2 separate regions of the Homo sapiens genome follow, and region 1 is linked to region 2. The links come from fine-mapping of genetic effects on gene expression. Tissue or cell type: lung. Region 2 holds a variant in brackets; the other region holds the start of a gene. All regions are shown on one strand. Distances are from middle to middle.

Region 1 (2,500 bases), 700 kb before region 2:
ATGTGACACTGTGCTCTGATCCTGTGAGAAAACTCCTGTGCTACCCGACAGGCCGTGAGCTCCAGAGAGGATCTTGCCTTATTCTTAGCTTCAACAGTCAGCCCAAGGCCTGACAACCAGCCTTTAAGAAGGAATCAAGGGGATTTGTGTGACCCAAAGATGGTAGTTTTGTCTGAGGATCTAGTGAACCACTTGTTATAAAAACAGCTATTATGAGTTCTGTGTTGGCAGCTCAGGAGAGACGAAAGGAAAGGGAGAGGAGAGGTACAGCCATTACAGGTGAGTAAAAAAGGCCTAAGGTTCTGAACCCTCATTCCCAAGATTGTGGGCAAACAATTAAATGCTCTGCAACTCAGTTTCTGCATCTGTAAATCTGGAATTAAAATGTTTGCCTTACAGAGACTAGGGGAGGTTACACATGTTCAGACACCATTCTGAGAAAACAGAGCGACTGACAGGGGTCTGAAAGGTATTTGTTGTAGCTGCAGAACAACTCTGCCAGACCAAGACCATCCATCCCTCTCTGCCCCCCTATTCCCAAATTCTCCTGTGTGGACGGCAGGACTCCTAAGCTCCCAGGAATGCATTCAAATAATAGATGGGTCAGAAAATATTCTGTCTCAGGGCCTTAATACAAGCTGTTCTCAGATTTGCCAGTGTCGCGCTGCCACCCTCTCCCCACTTCCTCCTCCCTTCCCACTCCCCCCTCCCTTCCCCTCTCCTCCAGTTTTATTCTGGAACCTGTTTTTCCGAAGTCGGACCCGTTTAATCTCTTAAATGTATAATTAGGGAGAGTGCTTGATTGCAAAGGCCTCTTCCAGTTCTCACATTTGCTCCCTTTCACACTGCAGAGAAATAGGGCAGGGAATCTAGAGGAGGGGAAGAACAAGAGACTGGAGAGGGAACAGAGGGAGGGTGGGGCGGGCTCACTCCTTTTCTCAATGAATGCCGAGGCCTCTGCAGATTTGCATAGGAGCCGATCGAGCCACGCCATTGGTTGGAGGGTGCGGGTGGGGCGGGGCGAGGCCGGACTGCGTGGGTCGGGCAGCAGCGCGGAGTTGGCTTGTGAGCCCCGCCCCCTCCGGGCCCCGCCCCCTCCCTGCGCGCGCTCGCGCGGCTCAGCCAGCTGCAAGTGGCGGGCGCCCAGGCAGATGCGATCCAGCGGCTCTGGGGGCGGCAGCGGTGGTAGCAGCTGGTACCTCCCGCCGCCTCTGTTCGGAGGGTCGCGGGGCACCGAGGTGCTTTCCGGCCGCCCTCTGGTCGGCCACCCAAAGCCGCGGGCGCTGATGATGGGTGAGGAGGGGGCGGCAAGATTTCGGGCGCCCCTGCCCTGAACGCCCTCAGCTGCTGCCGCCGGGGCCGCTCCAGTGCCTGCGAACTCTGAGGAGCCGAGGCGCCGGTGAGAGCAAGGACGCTGCAAACTTGCGCAGCGCGGGGGCTGGGATTCACGCCCAGAAGTTCAGCAGGCAGACAGTCCGAAGCCTTCCCGCAGCGGAGAGATAGCTTGAGGGTGCGCAAGACGGCAGCCTCCGCCCTCGGTTCCCGCCCAGACCGGGCAGAAGAGCTTGGAGGAGCCAAAAGGAACGCAAAAGGCGGCCAGGACAGCGTGCAGCAGCTGGGAGCCGCCGTTCTCAGCCTTAAAAGTTGCAGAGATTGGAGGCTGCCCCGAGAGGGGACAGACCCCAGCTCCGACTGCGGGGGGCAGGAGAGGACGGTACCCAACTGCCACCTCCCTTCAACCATAGTAGTTCCTCTGTACCGAGCGCAGCGAGCTACAGACGGGGGCGCGGCACTCGGCGCGGAGAGCGGGAGGCTCAAGGTCCCAGCCAGTGAGCCCAGTGTGCTTGAGTGTCTCTGGACTCGCCCCTGAGCTTCCAGGTCTGTTTCATTTAGACTCCTGCTCGCCTCCGTGCAGTTGGGGGAAAGCAAGAGACTTGCGCGCACGCACAGTCCTCTGGAGATCAGGTGGAAGGAGCCGCTGGGTACCAAGGACTGTTCAGAGCCTCTTCCCATCTCGGGGAGAGCGAAGGGTGAGGCTGGGCCCGGAGAGCAGTGTAAACGGCCTCCTCCGGCGGGATGGGAGCCATCGGGCTCCTGTGGCTCCTGCCGCTGCTGCTTTCCACGGCAGCTGTGGGCTCCGGGATGGGGACCGGCCAGCGCGCGGGCTCCCCAGCTGCGGGGCCGCCGCTGCAGCCCCGGGAGCCACTCAGCTACTCGCGCCTGCAGAGGAAGAGTCTGGCAGTTGACTTCGTGGTGCCCTCGCTCTTCCGTGTCTACGCCCGGGACCTACTGCTGCCACCATCCTCCTCGGAGCTGAAGGCTGGCAGGCCCGAGGCCCGCGGCTCGCTAGCTCTGGACTGCGCCCCGCTGCTCAGGTTGCTGGGGCCGGCGCCGGGGGTCTCCTGGACCGCCGGTTCACCAGCCCCGGCAGAGGCCCGGACGCTGTCCAGGGTGCTGAAGGGCGGCTCCGTGCGCAAGCTCCGGCGTGCCAAGCAGTTGG
Region 2 (2,754 bases):
ATGGAGTTTGCCTTCCAGAACATCCTCACATGTAGGAGTGATAATGGTCACTCACATTGGTAGAGCTCTTTAGGATTTTTCAAAACCATTTTATGTTGGTGAATTCATTTCATTGACAACCCTAGAGGGTGGGGAGTGGCAGTGGTTAGGGAAACAGGGCAGGAGTTACCATCCCTGCCTACAGAGAGGGAAACTGCAGTCCAAAGAGGTCCTGTGACCTGGTCCTCATGGCTCAGCTTGTAAGTAACAAGAGGCGGAATTAGAGCACAGATCCCCAGACACCAATTCAGAGATCTTTTCATGATGTGGCTCTTCTCCAACTCTGTGGCTTGGCAGTTCTCCAACTATAGGAAACACAACTGACCAAGATCCCAGCTGCACCCTCAAATCCACTGCTGTGATTGCACTGAAGCTGCCCTACCCAATGGCTGAGCACAGCAGAAATACTAAGGCAGGCCAATTCCTGGGAGTCATGGGACTCCTCTGATGACTGACTTTGGCTCCAGAACCCCTTAGGGCCTTGCTGAAACTTCCTTAGGCTCCATGGCACCCAGGGTGCTTCCACCCAACCTTCCCTCCCTCCCTCGTTCACGTGGGGTTATACTTGCAACACAGTCTGCTGGTTCACCCAGCCTTCCCTGGCTCCCTCCCCATTTCCTCTCATGGGCATTTCTTCTAATAAAATCTGCAGACCATATTGGGTCTAATCCCATCTCCAGTCTGCTTCTTGGAGGAACCAGACTAACATGACTCTGCCCTATATAATACAAATAATTATTTTCCATATATCTGATTTTTAGCTTTGCATTTACTTTAAATCATGCTTCAATTAAAGACACACCTTCTTTAATCATTTTATTAGTATTTCTAAGTATGATGGAAAGGTTCAGAGCTCAGGGGAGGATATGGAGATCCAGGGAGGCTTCCTGTAGGAAGTGGCCTGTGTAGTGCTTCAAGGGCCAGGCTGCCAGGCCATGTTGCAGCTGACCACCCACCTGCAGTGTACCGCCGGAAGCACCAGGAGCTGCAAGCCATGCAGATGGAGCTGCAGAGCCCTGAGTACAAGCTGAGCAAGCTCCGCACCTCGACCATCATGACCGACTACAACCCCAACTACTGCTTTGCTGGCAAGACCTCCTCCATCAGTGACCTGAAGGAGGTGCCGCGGAAAAACATCACCCTCATTCGGTGAG[C/T]GCCCTGCTGCCGTCCTGGGAGGAGAGGGGTGCAGTGTAGGGGCTGAATGTTATCACAGCACCGCAGACTCCTCTAGCCACAAAAGGCCGGCAGAGCCCTCCCTATGGGCACCCCTAGCCCTCCTAGGAGGACAAGCCTTGACATTCAGGGCCATGTATGTTGGCTTACATTAACTCCCATAGTTTATGGAGTTTATACAATGAGAGGAGAACCAGGGCTCTCCTCAAAATTCATTCAGATGTGCTCTCTCCAAGTCTACCTGGCTCCCCTTCCCTCCAGGGGAGCAGGGGAGCAAAGGGCCCCTCCTCTGAGCATCTAGAGCAACTGCGCCTTCCTCTGTCACTCACTGGAAATACTCCCCAGCCAGTACCCACAGTGATCTGTCTCTCCCCAAGGAGCATGAACCTCCCCCGGGGAAAAGCCATGGCTTATGCACCCCTGTGTCCCTGGCAAATATCAGAGACTCAATAACTACTGATTGAATGAATAAACATTTGACCATTGTCATGAGTCCCTGGTTGGAATCCTTCTTACCAGTTTTCAGGTGAAGAACTGGAAGCCCGAGATTGCATAGCAAAGCCATGTTGAGGGTATTACTCCTGAGTGTGTATGTTACCCCCGCCTCTCGTGTTTGTCCACTAAATGTGACGCCCAGGCTCAGGACCCCCAGCTGCCTCATTATTGTGGCCTGTTTGACTCTGTCTCCTCTTGTCTTCTCCTTTGCACAGGGGTCTGGGCCATGGCGCCTTTGGGGAGGTGTATGAAGGCCAGGTGTCCGGAATGCCCAACGACCCAAGCCCCCTGCAAGTGGCTGTGAAGGTAAGAAGTGGCTCACTCTTGAGCCTGCCCTTGGCTTGCGGACTCTGTAGGCTGCAGTTCTCAGCTCACAGCCTCCTCCTCCTCCCCACCCTCCCCTTCTCTGCCCAGACGCTGCCTGAAGTGTGCTCTGAACAGGACGAACTGGATTTCCTCATGGAAGCCCTGATCATCAGGTAAAGCCACAGAGAGACACCCTCACCCCAACTCCCCTCTGCCCCCAAAGAACCTGGAGAGGTTTCTAACAGATCGATATCTCCAAGGGAAATCGTGTTGTCCCTAGCATGTCCCCTTTTCTCCAGTAGGAGACTCCCAAACATTCTAGACACTTCTTACCAGAATGGAACAACCCTTGATGGTTGTTTCAGAAACAAAGTCTGTGTGGCCTAATAATCCCACCGATGTCACTGTCTGCAACCAGTATCCCTGCTGTTATCCACTGGTTCTTCTTCCCTCACTTTTTCTTAAGAAATGGAGCATGCTAGACTTTGACAGTACAAGATATAATCTCCCTCCAAGACCCTTCACCAATCCCAGTAATTGTGCTTCTAATATGATGGGAGGCCACCCCATCCTAGGCTCCCATCAGCAGGGCTGAGTCTCAGCTGGCTGCACCTTTTGACTTGAGGCTCCAAGATCTGGATTTAAGCTGAGAGTCTCAGTGCCTATGGCTCCTGAGGGCGTCCGCTGTGACAGCAGATCCCCTCAAGGAGGGGGCAGATATTTGACCTCAAGATCAGGTGG

Evidence for each region. PIP is the estimated chance that this variant, and not a neighbour inherited with it, causes the effect.
Region 1: it holds the start of ALK, and the variant in region 2 is fine-mapped to the expression of ALK in lung (TOPMed, PIP 0.99).

The regions. Positions count from the first base shown.
Region 1 is chr2:29,920,236-29,922,735 of GRCh38, reverse strand. It overlaps ALK (ALK receptor tyrosine kinase), which reads left to right and starts at 1,150. Exons shown (of 29, transcript NM_004304.5): 1 at 1,150-2,500. The coding sequence starts at 2,077.
Region 2 is chr2:29,221,776-29,224,529 of GRCh38, reverse strand. ALK (ALK receptor tyrosine kinase) reads left to right here. Exons shown (of 29, transcript NM_004304.5): 20 at 1,002-1,188; 21 at 1,923-2,013; 22 at 2,122-2,186. Among named protein-coding and RNA genes, the nearest start is that of CLIP4, 110 kb to the right of the region's middle. The variant C/T (reference allele first, on the strand shown) is at 1,194.